2 linked regions of the Homo sapiens genome follow. The protein of the gene in region 1 purifies or fractionates together with the protein of each later gene. This does not show direct contact. Each region holds a gene or a part of one and is shown on either strand. Other genes may lie near its edges.

Evidence for each region. The genes of interacting proteins can lie anywhere in the genome.
Region 2: the proteins of TSNARE1 (region 1) and NDE1 purify together in Homo sapiens (affinity purification with mass spectrometry; 3 studies listed by BioGRID and IntAct, with this or other methods). This does not show direct contact.

The regions. Positions count from the first base shown.
Region 1 is NC_000008.11:142,393,183-142,400,255, forward strand, and holds part of TSNARE1 (t-SNARE domain-containing protein 1), read right to left. Parts: intron 1-7,073.
Region 2 is NC_000016.10:15,645,246-15,653,244, reverse strand, and holds the start of NDE1 (nuclear distribution protein nudE homolog 1), read right to left. Parts: upstream 3,001-7,999; 5' UTR 2,951-3,000; intron 1,230-2,950; exon of another isoform or gene 1,195-1,229; intron 1-1,194. UniProt on the Homo sapiens protein: Required for centrosome duplication and formation and function of the mitotic spindle. Essential for the development of the cerebral cortex.

The DNA of each region.
Region 1 (7,073 bases):
AGCAGCCCTGAGAACCATCCGGGGAACGATGGCGAATAGAAAAAGCCAATCCCCGGCCACACACTGCAAGATTCCATTTCTACGACTCGCTTCAACTGACGACATTACGGAGATGGAGAGCAGACTGGTGGCTCCCAGGAGTTAAGGAAGGGTTCATGGCAGAAGCAAGGTAGGCTTCGCTGAAACGGGCACCGACACAGGGCTCCTCTGAGTGATGACGGAAACCTCTGGCATGGCGGCCGCGTCGGCCAATCCGCTGGCTGTGCTACTGTCCTCGTTCTGCACAAAGCTACCACGGGGAAAACTGGGTGAAGAGTGCACAGGATCTGTGTATTATTTCTCACAACTGTATGTGAATTTACAATGGTCACAATAGTTTAATTTACAAAAAGATCCTGAGATGCCAAACGCCACGCCCGAAGGTGCTGAGAGAGCAGAGGCCACATTCTCCCTGGTCTGACTCCCCGAGCACCTGCCCCGTCCACTCCACCACCTCCTGGAGCAGAGGCCTAGAGGGAGGTGAAGTGTCACACAGCCCACCCTCTCCTACTGCAGATAGGGAAGCCCAGGAGGAAAATCGAGGGAAAGCCTGGGCAGCAAAGGTGGCCGGTTCACAGCACAAGCTGCCTGGCTACGTGCTGGTGTGGCATCCCTCGTGCTGCTCAACCGAGACTTCCAGTTCTCCTCCCTCGGGGAGTGTGGGGCACTTCCTGGCCTCTTGTGGTTGCAGCCGTGTGGTTCCTCCTGGCCAATGAACTGTGAATCCCCAATGAACACACACCTTTGTTGCTTCAGGCTACTAAAACCTGAGGGATGTTCATTACGAAAGCAAAACCATACAGGTTACATTCTCCACCCGTCCAATCACAGCTCTGCCCACGCTGGCTGCCCGTCTTCACTCCTTGCTGGGCTGGGAGGCCCTCCTGCCCTGGCTAAGGCAGAAGCCTGCAGGCTGCCCGTGGGCCCCACGCTTATGCCTGCGGCCTCCAGTGGCCTCCATACCCTCTCACACCGGTTAAGGTGTCAAGATAACAGCTTTGGGGGCAGATACGCAGAAAGACGGGAGGTGCTCTGCCCATCGGACCACCCTGCCAGACTGAAGGAACCAGGGTGTGGGCACCCCACAGCAGCAGGGCGGGTGGACCGGACAGCTCGGACCTCTTACTCCCCATCTGTAAACTGGGGAGTGAAAGCAGTAGCTACAGAATCTTTTCTCCAAACACAACCGTACTCAGAAAACACCAAGTGAAACAGATCACATCAGAGCTGCTCTGGGTAAAGGGAGGGACGATGATGGCAGCAGGTCTAAGACTAGAACCTCCGGGGTTCCAAGGCACAAATCGACTCACCTGGAAGTGCCCCACAGTCCTGGGCCCATTTCCCATGGCGCAGTGTGGGAATGACAGGCCACAGTTTCTACGGCCAGACCCCACGGGATTCCTCCCACAGCTCTGCTCTGTGCTTGCTTCATGGTCTTGGGAAACTACATCACCTCTCAGGTTGGACAGAAAACAACTCCCACCTCCCTGCTCCAACCAGGGGCAGCAGGGCCACCATGCCATTGAGCTCTAAGCTGTGGGATGGTCCGCAGGGTCACCGCAGCACTCCCCACGCCCCAGCTGCCAGCGTGCCTGTCCACGTCCCTGTGTGCCCTGCCAAGTCTCCTCTGCTGGCAGCATCCCAGGCTGTGCCTGCGCCCTGGGGACAGTGAGGTGCGCTAAGGGTGCAGGGCCCTAGAAGCCAAGTCTCCATAAGGAGAGATGCAAGCAGGTGACCCGGTCTCCCTTCCGTAAGATAGGGTGATGGTGTCACCTTGGAGGCTGCTCTGGGAATTCAGGACCTGCCCGCCTGCAGGAAGCATCGCTGTTCCTGTCCCCCACCACTTCCTGCTCCTGGCAGGGAAGGGGGGCGGCCCCGTGCATCAAAGGCTGAGCGGCCTAAAGGTGAGGCTCAGCTCCTCCCATGGTTATCTTGTGCCCACTGTGGGCATTTTCCTGTGCTGGGACCACAGAGACAGAAAAGACAAGGTCCTGGCCCTGGAGGAGGAAAGCTAATGACTGCAATGCAACAAGGCCCAAGCCACGCAGAGCCACTTCCCAAAATCTGCAGCCCTCTCTCTACCTTGCCCTCCCCGGGAGGCACCAGGCCCTCAGGATGAGGGGATGGGGCTGACTCCTGACGGCGTCCCCCAGCGGAGACTTCAACAGCCCAGGAGGTCACCAGTCGGGGCCACTCCAGGCAGAGGGGCGGCCCCAGCAAAGACACGGGGGGCAGGCTGCAGGCAGCCTGCGGAGTCAGCGCAGCAGGTTTCCCAGGGGCTGGAAAGCCCATGGAGCACCGCAGATGCCAAGTGACAGTGAGGCTGGAGCTGCCAGGAAGATCTGTCGCCAGGGGGCGGCACCGCCGGATCTACCCCTCAGCAAGATGCAGAATTAAGGGGCCCAGGCTGGAGGCTGTGACCGGCGAAAACGCCCAGGTACCACGAAGCAGCAGAAGCAACGGTTCTCCCCACTTGCAATTCCGCCTCCTGCGCCCACTCCCAGCACACCACGCTCATCAGCACCTTCCCACAAGTGAGCAGCAGCGGGAAGGAGGTCAGACTCCCAGCAAGGAATCCAGCTCCTCATTAGCACCGAGGGCAGCCAGCCCAGGAAGGAGGCTGCTGTGTTGTGTTGCTTCTTTCTAATGTTGGGAGAGACTGATTCTGGGCTCTGGTTTAAAAACATGTCCCCTTCCAAATACTTCGCTAGAATGGATCATGGGTCCAGATGGAGGGCAGCCAAGGTGGCCCGCTCTGTCCAGGGCAGACGCCTGTGGCTCTCTTTGTCCGTGGCTCTGTCCAGGGCAGACGCCTGTGGCTCTCTTTGTCCGTGGCTCTCTGACAGGACCCTTGATGACCCATGCCCTCAGAACACTGGCCCTCATCTTCCCCAGACCATGCCACACTCAACTCCTTCACCATCACCCCTCCAATGCCCAGCTTCCCATTGGTACAGGTTCAGTGTGCACCCCTCAGATGACACCCAGGGTCAGGCTCAGGCGATAAACACAAACACACACACACACACGCACACACCCGCGCACCTGGCCCCAAAGCCCTGGAAACGCTTGACTCAGCTAGACACCATCCACAGGCAACCACAGCCTCTGGGGGCTCACACCACCCCGACCTCCTAGCCTCAAGCCTTATGGGAACAAGAATCTTGAGCTCCGCCCACCTCCCCTCTCCATCAGAAATCTCAACCTCCATACCTGGATTCCTTCAAGCCTGTGAACCCCTGCCACACTCTGCTCTGGAACATCATCTCAAGATGGAAGGGAGGGACAGGATTAGGTCTTTATTAGTGCAGTAATTGCCATTATTAATAACATCCTCTAACTCAACAGGGAATTTTTGTTTGTAAAGCTGCTTCCAGCCTGGTCCCCCTGGAGAGCAGCAGGGCAGGATCGCCAGGTGGGCCGGGCAGCAGAACGGTGAGCAATGCCTCTGATTTCTGCCTCTGATCAGAATCCTGGTGAGAACACCAGGGCTCAAGTCATGGCTGGGCATTTACCACCCCCGTGACTTCAGGTAAGTTTCCCAAGGCTGGGAAGTTTCCTGATCTGAGGAGCAGGAAGAGCCTAGCAGGTGCCTGACAGATGCCCTGTGGTCAAAAGCAGGAGGTGTTGTTATAATCAGAATCCAAGACAGCCTGACGCTCAGGTCTACTGTGCGAGCTGGCCGTGCCATGGCTGACCAGGTAGAGCAAGCTCTGTGATGTGTGTAGCAGTGGCGAGGCAGCCCGAGGGTCTCACAGGAGAGAGGCAGCTCCACCTGCCCTGGGGCTGCACTCCCTGACCTTCCACAGCCCCTATGTGTGGCAGTGGCGAGGCAGCCCGAGGGTCTCACAGGAGAGAGGCAGCTCCGCCTGCCCTGGGGCTGCACTCCCTGACCTTCCACAGCCCCTATGTGTGGCAGTGGCGAGGCAGCCCGAGGGTCTCACAGGAGAGAGGCAGCTCCGCCTGCCCTGGGGCTGCACTCCCTGACCTTCCACAGCCCCTCTGTGTGGCAGTGGCGAGGCAGCCCGAGGGTCTCACAGGAGAGAGGCAGCTCCGCCTACCCTGGGGCTGCACTCCCTGACCTTCCACAGCCCCTCTGTGCACCTTGGGAATTCTTCCCTACACCCCTCAGGTGATGTCCCCCAAGACGCCCGGAGATTCCAAGTCTCTGGGACAGACACAATGCTGCCCACCTCCCAGGAGGCTGCAGGATCAGACTAATGACATGGAAAGGCAGGGCTCCTGGAGGGGCCAAGTGACATGGCCAGGGTCCCACGGCTAAGATGTGGCAATGCTGTGTCCCTACCTGGATGTTACGTAAGTCAGGGCTGGGTTGTAGCCCTCCCCACAGGGCAAATCAGAGGGAGAAAACGAGGCAATCTTCCACTGTGGAAGAAAACAACAGTTGATCTGGCCACAGCACTGGGCCAGAGGCTCCCAGGCCAGCGTGAGTGCCTGGCTCTGCTCACTGGCTTCCATGCTGGGGAGGGCTCGAGCCTGCAGCCTGAAGCCCAGGGTTGCCAGGACAATGAGCAGCAGCTGCTGCCAGTCCACTCAGCTGCGTGGCTAGCCCACCAATCCATCGAGGGGGCCCACAGCGCAGCCACCACAAGGCACCCAGCACACAGTGCCAAGGCATGGAGCCTGGCCCCTGCAGGCTCCAGACACAGGCCCTCGGTGTGGCACTGCTCCACCCAGCCCTGTCTCCAGACCTCTTCGGCAAACCTCAGCCTGGGCCCCGGGTTCCCTGCTCAGCACCAACAGCCATCAGAAAAGCCCAGGCCTCACCCTGCCTCCCAAGACCCTCACAGGCTGACCCGAGTCAGACCTGCCTACTAGGAGTCCAGCACTGCTGTGCCTTCCCTTGGGCCTCCCGCTGCCTGGAGTAGCTGCCTCTCCTGCCCTCCCCAGCTAAGGCCACTCAGCTCTCCAGACACAGCTCAGGCCTCACCAGCATCCAGGATTCTTCCCAGGTATCTACCCAGCCCTGCCCAAAACGCACCCCCAAACCCTCCCAAAGCGCACCCCCAGCCCTGCCCAAAACACACCCCTAGCCCTGCCCAAAACATGTCCCCAGCCCTGCCCAAAACACACCCCCAGCCCTGCCCAAAACACACCCCTAGCCCTGCCCAAAACATGCCCCCGGCCCTACCCAAAACACACCTCCAGCCCCAAAATATGCCCCCAAACCCTCCCAAAGCACATCCCCAGCCCTGCCAAAGCACAACCCCAGCAGAGTCAGCTCCCCTCTCCACCTCCTCACTCCACCGCCTCAACCTTGCTCTGTAAGGTGCCCTCTCCACCTCCTCACTCCACCGCCTCAACCTTGCTCTGTAAGGTGCCCTCTCCACCTCCTCACTCCACTGCCTCGACCTTGCTCTGTAAGGTGCACAGCAGTGTCCGGAGCAAGGCCAGGACAGCCTGATCCTGCTTGCCACTGTGTCCATCCCAAGACTCATGCCAGGCATGGCCTTAGCATAGTCTCACAGAACATTACACATCTCAGACAGCAGCCCTGATGGCAGGGGCAGGGGCTGGGGACTTGCCAATGACCCTGTCCAGGCAGGAACACCCAGTAGACTGTCCTGCTTGCCTGCAGTGGCCCCCAAGTGGGTTCACATCCTAACAGGACCTACCCAAGGACAAAAAAGGAAGGGCCCTGTGCAGCACAGTCCGGATTTGAAGCCCACACGGAGCCACCTTCACCCCCATCCCAGACTCAGCAAGCCGCAAGTTGACGAGAGAATCTCATAGCCTGGATAAGGCCAGGCAGGACAGCCACAGCTGGCTTCTGAGGACAGCCCTGGATGGCAAGCAGGACACCCCGAAGCAAGGCCCCTGCAGGAGACACCGCCCAACTGGGCTCCGTAGGTGAGGACACCCCGCCCATAAGGCATCTTCAGAAACCTATTCAAGGCACCTGGCTTGTCATTGTTGGTAGTGCCCTTCTTCTCTGCCAGGGAACTCAGACCAAGAAAACTCTTCCTATGGAAGCTTCCAGATGGCTCCACCATGCAGCACTAACAGGAAGGATAGTGGAATAAGAACAGCACAGGCTCAAGATCAGCTGTGAAACAACCCCTCACGTCTTCAGCAAATCCCCATCGGGCATTCACTGGGCCCCAGGCCCTGGGCCACAGCTGGATGGACGTTCAGAGACGCACAGCTCCCCGCGGGTGGGGTGGCAGACAGGGAGGTGTGGAAAGGTACAGAGTCCACCACTGGCGCTGGGGACCGTGGGGGCAGGAGGAATGATGATCTTCCCCAGCTGCCTCAATGCGCCCAAGAGGGAGAGGATGAGGATGCCCTCAGTACAGAGAGCAGAGCCAAACATAAGCATCCACACTGAACAACTGACTGTCACCTCTGGAGGGACAGCGCCGGCCATGAGCTCTCCAACTCTCTCACTCACTCCTTCTTGCCTTTAGTCTTTTGGTCACCACTGCTCCACACACAGATGCCACAAATGTTTAGACAGGGCTGAGCATCCCAGCAGAAAGCAGAGGAATCTGAGAGGAGGGCTGCTCAGGAGTCTGCTACTATGGACGATGCACAAATCAGACTTTAAAGAACACAATGAATGACAGCTGGACTGGGCCACAAGGTCAAAGTCTACTTGTAGCAAGTAACACCATCCAAACAAACCCAGTAGCCACAGAAACGCCCGTGTGCATTAAAACAAAAAGCCTGGAGCCAGACGCCATGACTCACGCTGGGAATCCCAGCACTCCGGGAGGCTGAGGCCAGAGGATGGCTTAAGGCCAGGAGTTCAAGACCAGCCTGGGCAACTGGGCAACACAGTGAGACACGCCTATCTCAAAAAAAAAAAAAGAGGTGGCTGGGCACGGTGGCTCACACCTGGGATTACAGTGTGTGGCTCAGGCAGGTTGATCACCTGAAGGTCAGGAGCTTGAGTCTAGCCTGGCCAAAAAGAAGAAGTGGCTGGGCACAGTGGCTCACGCCTGTAATCCCAGCACTTTGGGAGGCTGAGGCAGGTTGATCACCTAAAGGTCAGTAGTTTGAGTCCAGCCTAG
Region 2 (7,999 bases), on another chromosome or scaffold:
ACTGGAAACCTCAATGTCAACAGAGGACTGAATGGAAAACGATGCAGTTGTTAAGAACTGTAAGTACTAATATGGAAGAAAGCTCAGGATATGTTAAAAATGGGTGCCCATTTTTGTTTATTTCCCTCTCTCTGTACACAGAATAGAAAAGGGTCTGGAGGATGCACCAGAATGGGGGTAAAGCAAGCCCTGTGGATTTGTACCTGACACCTTGCTTTAAGGTAAACTACATACACATATATACAGTAAGCATAGATCGCTTTAGAGATTTTAAAAAGCTTAGGCCAGGCGCGGTGGCTCTCTCCCACCCCGGCACGTTGGGAGGCTGAGGCGGAAGGATCGCTTGAACCCAGGAGTTCGAGACCAGCCTGGGCAACATAGTGAGACCCCAATCTCTACAAAAAATTTTAAAAATTAGCCAAGCATGGTGGCATGTGCTTTTAGTCCCAGCTACTTGGGAGGCTCAGGCAAGAGGATTGCTTGAGCCTGAGAGGTCGAGACTGCAGTGAGCTGTGATTGCATCACTGTGTTCCAGCTTGGGCGACAGAGTGAGATCCCGTCTCAAAAAACAAACAAACAAAAACTTGGACAAAAAGTAAAATAGCTATTGTTCCAGGATAATTTTATTCTACTGAACCAAGTGACAGGGAAAGAATTTTTCCTACTGTGGTTTTGCCTCCTCCAACCCTTTTCAAACATTTCTTGAATACCTACTAAGTGCTGGGCACTGCTGAAGGAGGCAGACAAAAAGCACCCACATCCATTGCACGAGGTGCACGTGTAGTACTAACTGCAGGCACAAACTTTCTGTACACAGGAATGCTCATGTTAGGAAATTACCTTGTGAGGAAAAGGAGTGTCAATTCTCGGCTCACATTCTAAGGCAAAAGAACACACTTTGGGCTGCATGCAGTGGCTCATGCCTGCAAGTAATCTCAGCACTGTGGGAGGCCAAGGCAGGAGGACTGCTTGAGCCCAGGAATTTGAGACCAGCCTGGGCAACAAAGCAAGATTCTGCCTCTACATAAAAAATAATAATAATGATAGAGTCGGGTGCAGTGGCTCATGCCTGTAATCCCAACACTTTGGGAGGCTGAGGTGGGCAGATCACGAGGTCAGAAGTTTGAGACCAGCCTGGCCAATATGGTGAAACCCCATCTCTACTAAGAATTAGCCGGGCATGGTGGCACGCACCTGTAATCCCAGCTACTCAGGAGGGTGAGGCAGAAGAATCACTTGAACCCGGAGGACTGAGGTTGCAGTGAGTCGAGATCATGCCACTGCACTCCAGCCTGGACAAGAACAAGACTCCGTCTCAAAATAAATAAATAAATAAATAATAAATAACACACTTTGGAAACAAAAATAAGTCAAGTTAATAAACTGTTATCCAACATGGGATAAAATATATGAATCACAGGCCCCTGAGACTTCAGCGGCACAGATCATCTGCATTTAATCCTACACAAAACACACACTAAGAGGAAAGGCTCAAAATGGGTTGTAGGCCGGCACGGTGGCTCACGCCTGTAATCCCAGCACTTTGGGAGGCCGAGGGGGCAGATCACGAGGTCAGGAAATCGAGACCATCCTGGCTAACACGGTGAAACCCCATCTCTACTAAAAATACAAAAAATTAGCCAGGCGTGGTGGCACGCACCTGTAGTCCCAGCTACTCCGGAGGCTGAGGCAGGAGAATCGCTTGAACCCGGGAAGCGGAGGTTGCAGTGAGCCAAAATCGCACCACTGCACTCCAACCTGGGCGAGAGTGAGACTCTGTCTCAAAAACAAAAACAAAAAAAAAAAAAAAAAAACGGGTTGTATACCAACGAGGTGATGGAGGCTGGGGTGGTCGGGTAACAAGAGGCTTTAGGAGTAGCTGGGATCTAATTAATCTTCAAAACACCCGACCCATGTCCTAAAATGCCATCCTATGCTAGAATACACTATAACAAAACTAAAAATGATGAACCTGCCTAGGTCGTGCTGCAAAGGCCTTTTCTTTAGAAAGTTAAAAGGGGCCTGAGGCTCAAAGTAGAAATTAAGAGGCACAACCTGGTAGTAACCACGGACAAAGCAATCAAGGAAGCTCAGGCCCTCAGGAGGCAGAAAGCCTGAGATGGCTCGGAGAAGATAAAGTCGCCTCCCCAAAAGCGGTGTCAAGGTGACAGCGGGGTTTCCCAGGACCTCAGAGACTCAGGTCCTCAGTGAGCCCAGCCATCACTCAAGCTGCGGAATAAGCATTTTCGTCCTTTACCCAATCCCTCCCCAAAGTGCTGTCAGAAGAAACCTGAACCGTCCTGCGGCAGAGACGGGAGCAAAGCGGAGAGCAGACTGCCCCAAACGTGTTCCCGGAGGGAGGGAGCAGGGTGGGTTTTTGGAAAGAGGCCTGCAGGGGCGGGACAGTGGGTGTGAGGGCAGGGGCAACGCTGCAATCGAGGGGTCTGGGGTCGCAGAGAAGCGGGTGGCAGGATGGAGGAATAGGAGAGAGAGAGAAAAGAAACGAGGGTCATCTAGGAGAGGAGTATGGGGAGGAAGGAAGAGGAGAAAGAGGATGGAGCCTGGCAGCGGGGTTTGGGGACCGGCAAGGCTTAACCACCCAGGAAGTCCCGGAAGGAGAAGAGGGCAACGGGGTGGGAGAGAGACCAACGCAGAAAGAGAAACAAAGTTGCCAAGGGCGAGGGGCCAGCGCGAGGAACGCACCGGTGGCAAGGCACTCAGTGCCTAACTTTTTAGGACGGGAGGCTCCAGGGAGGCGGGATTTTGGAGCCCAGGGACCGGGGGAGTCCAGGCGGCCGGGAAGCGACGCGCAAGCGAGGGGCGTAGGGGTCCCTGCCAGGCGGTGGCCCGGGGTCCCGGGATCCTGGGGCGGGGCAGAGGAGCTTTTCAGCCGCGGTGGAGGTCCCCGGACAGCCACCCCGACCCCAGCCCCGCGCAGCGCCTCACTTACCCGAGCAGGGGCGGCGAGGCCAACGCGGCGGCGGCGGCAGAGGCGGCTGCGAAGGGCGGTGCGGCCCCGGCCCTCCGGACCCCGCCCCCGCCCCGGAGCCTGCGGTCGGCGCCTCCCATTGGCTGCTGCTCTACGGTACCGCGTCCGCCTCGGCCAATCAGCGCAGAGCAGCGTCGTTTGGAAACTTTTTTCCCAGGCCGGGCGCGGCGCGGCCAAGCGGCGAAGGCTCCTGGCCGGAGGGGGTTTGAGAGGCGCCGGCTGCCGGGCGCTGGGCTGCGGCGGGCTGGCGGGCATTGGAGATGCTGCAGAACGCTGCCTGGACACCCGGGAAACGGGTTTGGGCTTGCGGGCCGCGCATTTCAGGAAAATACGCCGGCCTCTCCTTCACTTCGATTGCATTTTCCCATTCTTGCACTTTCTCCAAATCAGAAGGAAAGACAAAGATTCAGGCCCACTGAAGCTAGCAGTGCCCCGTGCCCTTCCTACTCCTTTACACCAAAAGTAGAATCTTCAGCATCATTATCTTCTCCAGAAGCAGGAGAACGTAGTGCACCAGAATTTGGTCATAAACTTGGCTTTGAGTCCTAGTCCTGCCCCTTACTAACTGTGTGGTCTTGGGAAAGTTGTTTAGCCTCTATGACTCCGTTTCCCCATCTATAAAACGCCATTATGGGTCTGGCGCGGTGGTCACGCCTGTAATCCCAGCACTTTGGGAGGCCAAGGCGGGTGGATCACGAGGTCAGGAGTTCAAGACCAGCCTGGCACATGGTGAAACCCCGTCTCTACTAAAGATACAAAAAATTAGCCGGATGTGGTGGCACGCACCTGTAATCCCAGCTACTCAGGAGGCTGAGGCAGGAGAATCACGGGAAACCGGGAGGTGGCGGTTGCAGTGAGCCGAGATCACACCACTGCACTCTAGCCTAGGCGACAGGGCAAGACTCCGTCTTAAAGAACAGACAAACAAACAAACGACATTATGCAGAGGACTAAATGACTTAACAGCATTTGTAAAAACGTTTAGAACAGAAATTTGAACTTAGTAAGTACAATATATGTATTTGTTAAATGATCTTGATTTTGTTTATTTATTTATTTTGAGATGAAATCTCCCTCTGTCTCCCAGGCTGGAATGCAGTGGCGTGATCTCCACTCACTGCAACCTCTGCCTTCTGAGTTCAAGCAATTCTCCTGCTTCAGCCTCCCGAGTAGCTGGGATCACAGGCCCGCATCACCACACCCGGCTAATTTTTATATTTTTAGTAGAGACGGGGTTTCACCATGTTGGCCAGGCTGCTCTCGAATCCCTGTCCTCAGGTGATCCACCCACCTCGGCCTCCCAAAGTCCTGGGATTACAGGCGTGAGCCACCACACACTGCCTGAAGATCGTGATTTTTAAATGGCTGTGTGTGCCAGGCACAATTCTCACAGCAACCCTAATTGTTCACTAACAAATTAAAATTAAAAAATAATTTTTTTCTTTTCGAGACAGAGTTTCCCTCTTGTTGCCCAGGCTGGCGTGCAATGGTGCGATCTCGGCTCACTGCAACCTCTGCCTCCCAGATTCAAGCGATTTTCTTGTCTTAGTCTCCCTAGTAGCTGGGATTACAGGCGCCCACCATTACGCCCAGCTAATTTTTTGTATTTTTAGTAGAGACACGGTTTCACTGTGTTGGCCAGGCTGGTCTCGAACTCCTGACCTCAAGCAATACACCTCAGTCTCCCAAAGTGCTGGGATTACAGGCGTGAGCCATGTAACTCAGAAGGCAGAGGTTGCGGTGAGTGGAGATCACGCCACTGCATTCCAGCCTGGGAGACAGAGGGAGACTTCATCTCAAAATAAATAAATAAATAAAATCAAGCCACCATGCTTGGCTGGAATTTCTTTTTTTCTTTATTTTCTTCTAAAACATCCTGTCATAACATGTTCATTAACAAATACCGAACATTCTGGTTAGTGGGTACAAAAATAGAGTTAGAATGAATAAGATCTAGTATTTGGGAGCACAGCAGGGTGACTACAGTCCACAACAATGTATTGTACATTTTAAAATAACTAAAGGAGTATAATTGGAGTGCTTGTAACACAAAGAAAGGATAAATGCTTGAGGTCATGGACACCCATTTACCCTGATGTGATTATGATGCATTGCATGCCTGTTATCAAAATATCTCATGTACCCCATAAATATAAACACCTACAGTGTACCCATAAAAACTAAAAATATATATATTATTATCCAGCTTTTTTTTTTTTTTGTGAGACAGAGTCTCACCCTGTGACATAGGCTGGAGTGCAGTGGCATAATCAAAGCTCACTGCATCCTGGACCTCCCAGGCTCAAGTGATCCTCCCACCTCATCCTCCGGAGTAGCTAGGACCACAGGTGTGCACCAACACGCCCAGCTAATTTTTACATTTTTTTGTAGAGACGTGGATCTCACTATGTTGCCCAGGCTGGTCTTGAACTCCTGGGCTCAAGTGATCCTCCTGCCTCAGCCTCCCTCCCAAAGTGCTGGGATTATAGGCATGAACCACAGCACCCGGCATTATGAGCATTCTTCTGTACAATGCACCCTTACAGCACAGTGAATACAGTCAGACAAAGTACCTGTCCTCAAAGGGCTTATATTGTTAAGAGAGAAACATACTAAATCTATAAGCAGAAAAAGTAACGTCATTTCAGATACTGATAAGTGCTATGACTAAGGCAAGCCCATTTGATACAACGGGCTGGGAGGGGTCACTTCAGATGCTATAGTCAGGGAAGGCCACTGTAGAGAGGAGACCATGCAACTGAACCACAGGTGATGAACCACAGGAAAGCATTAAATTGTATCCATGTTAAAGATAAGAAAATAAAGGTGCAGGAAGTTAATTGAGTTGTCCGAGGTCTTACAACTAGTAATTAACAAATCAGGCTTCAGAGCTGGCTCTGACTCCTAAACCCTCCTTCTTCAGCACTATGCTAGAGGCAAAGAGATCTTAGCTATTACAGGATCTCCCACCCCATCTTGCCTTCCTGCTATCCTACAACAGCCTTTCTCAAATTCTACTTTGAACTCCTTGCTAATTCCTAAAAACTGCTTAGAGGCACAAAGGGGAACCCCACCACCTATCAACAGGTTTAAGGAAAGTACCAAATGTCTTTCAGGAAACTTCCCAAACATTAATGAATCATTTACATGCTGCTTCACACTTTACTACGTCTGATGCCTTCCCCCTTGGAATTTTATTTTATTTCGAGACAGAGTTTCACTCTGTTGCCCAGGCTAGAGTGCAGTGCTGCAATCTCGGCTCACTGCAACCTCCACCTCCCGGGTTCAAGCGATTCTCCTGCCTCAGCCTTTCGACTAGCTGGGATTACAGGTGTTCACCACCATGCCCACCTAATTTTTCTATTTTAGTAGAGGCAGGGTTTCACCATGTTGGCCAGGCTGGTTTTGAACTCCTGACCTCAAGTGCTCCACCCGCCTCAGCCTCCAAAAGTGCTGGGATTACAGGCATGAGCCACCACACCAAGCCTCCCCTTAGGAATTTTATTACTTATTTACTTATTCATTAAGATGGAATCTCACTCTGTCGCCCAGGCTAGAGTGCAGTGGTGCGATCTCGGCTCATTGTAACCTCCACCTTCCAGTTCAAGCGATTCTCCTGCCTCAGCCTACCAAGTAGCTGGTATTAACCCCCCTTGGATTTTTTTTTTCTTTTTTTTGACGGAGTCTCGTTCTGTTGCCCAGGCTGGAGTGCAGTGGCACGATCTCGGCTCACCGCAACCTCTTCCTCCTGGGTTCAAGCGATTCTCCTGCCTCAGATTCCTGAGTAGCTGGGATTTCAGGTGTGCACCACCACGTCCAGCTAATTTTGTAGTTTTAGTAGACACAGGGTTTCACCATGTTGGTTTGGCCAGGCTGGTCTCGAACTCCTGACCTCAAGTGATCCACCTGCCTCGGCCTCCCAAAGTGCTGGGATTACAGGCGTGAGCCACTGCGCCTGGCCCCCCTCGGAATTTTATTTGGCCCTAACCACTCTGTGACGTTTCTGGACAGGAACTAATCACCTCAGCTTACAGAGAAACCGAAGCACAAACTGATGAGGTACTGGTGTTGCCTAAATGGCTTTGATCAAGGTATTTAAACTAGTTGGTTCTCAATTTCCCAAATTTTCCATAAAGAAAAAAGAGAGGGCATTGAAATAATAATCCTTAAAGTCCTATTTGGGAACAACATTTAGGGAAATAGGTTTGTCATTGGGTAAAACCTTAAAAACATTTAAAATGTTTTTCTTGTTCTTTTTAAATTCAATTTGTTTTCCTTGTAGCTTTGGACTATGGCTGAGCAGATAACTCAATTTAACTTCCTTAGGTCCTTCCATGATCATTTATTAATTCAAACCACTGAACCTAATACAGGTAGAAGATTGGTTTCTGGGGAGAAACTCCTTTAATAACAGCTTGGTTAGTTGAAAAGCTGAATTGCATGTAAAGTAGCTACTTAAATAGCACACAAAAAAGTCTTTCGGTTTTCATACATGTGAAGACTATAATTTGGACAAGGGAAAAACTGAAAGTTACTTGTACTCTCTAAAGTTTTCCCAGCAAAGAAACAGGAATACAATTAATAGAGGATACATACTTAAAATATATCTTAAGAGAAAATTTATGTATTTTGATTCATAATTGTCTCCTAAGGCCTGGTATACTTTGCTTAGGCTCCTAGTCTTTAGAAAGCAGCAATAAAATTACATTTCTTTTAAAAGTATTTGTAATTCAGACTTTTATTAGCCTTCCACTTAATACGACTGTTTTGTTTTTAAAAATTTTTTTAATAGAGACAAGTGTCACACCATGTTGCTCAGGCTGGTTTTAAACACCAAGCCTCAAGGGGTCCTCCTGTCTCAGCCTCCCAAAGTGCTGGGATTACGACATGAGTCACCATGCCCCGCCCATTTTCAATCACTACATTTACTTGTTGTGACTAGTTACAGCTTTGGACTTGAAAGAATGCCAAGCTAAGTCAAACAAAATGTGTCTGCTTGGTAAAAAGGAA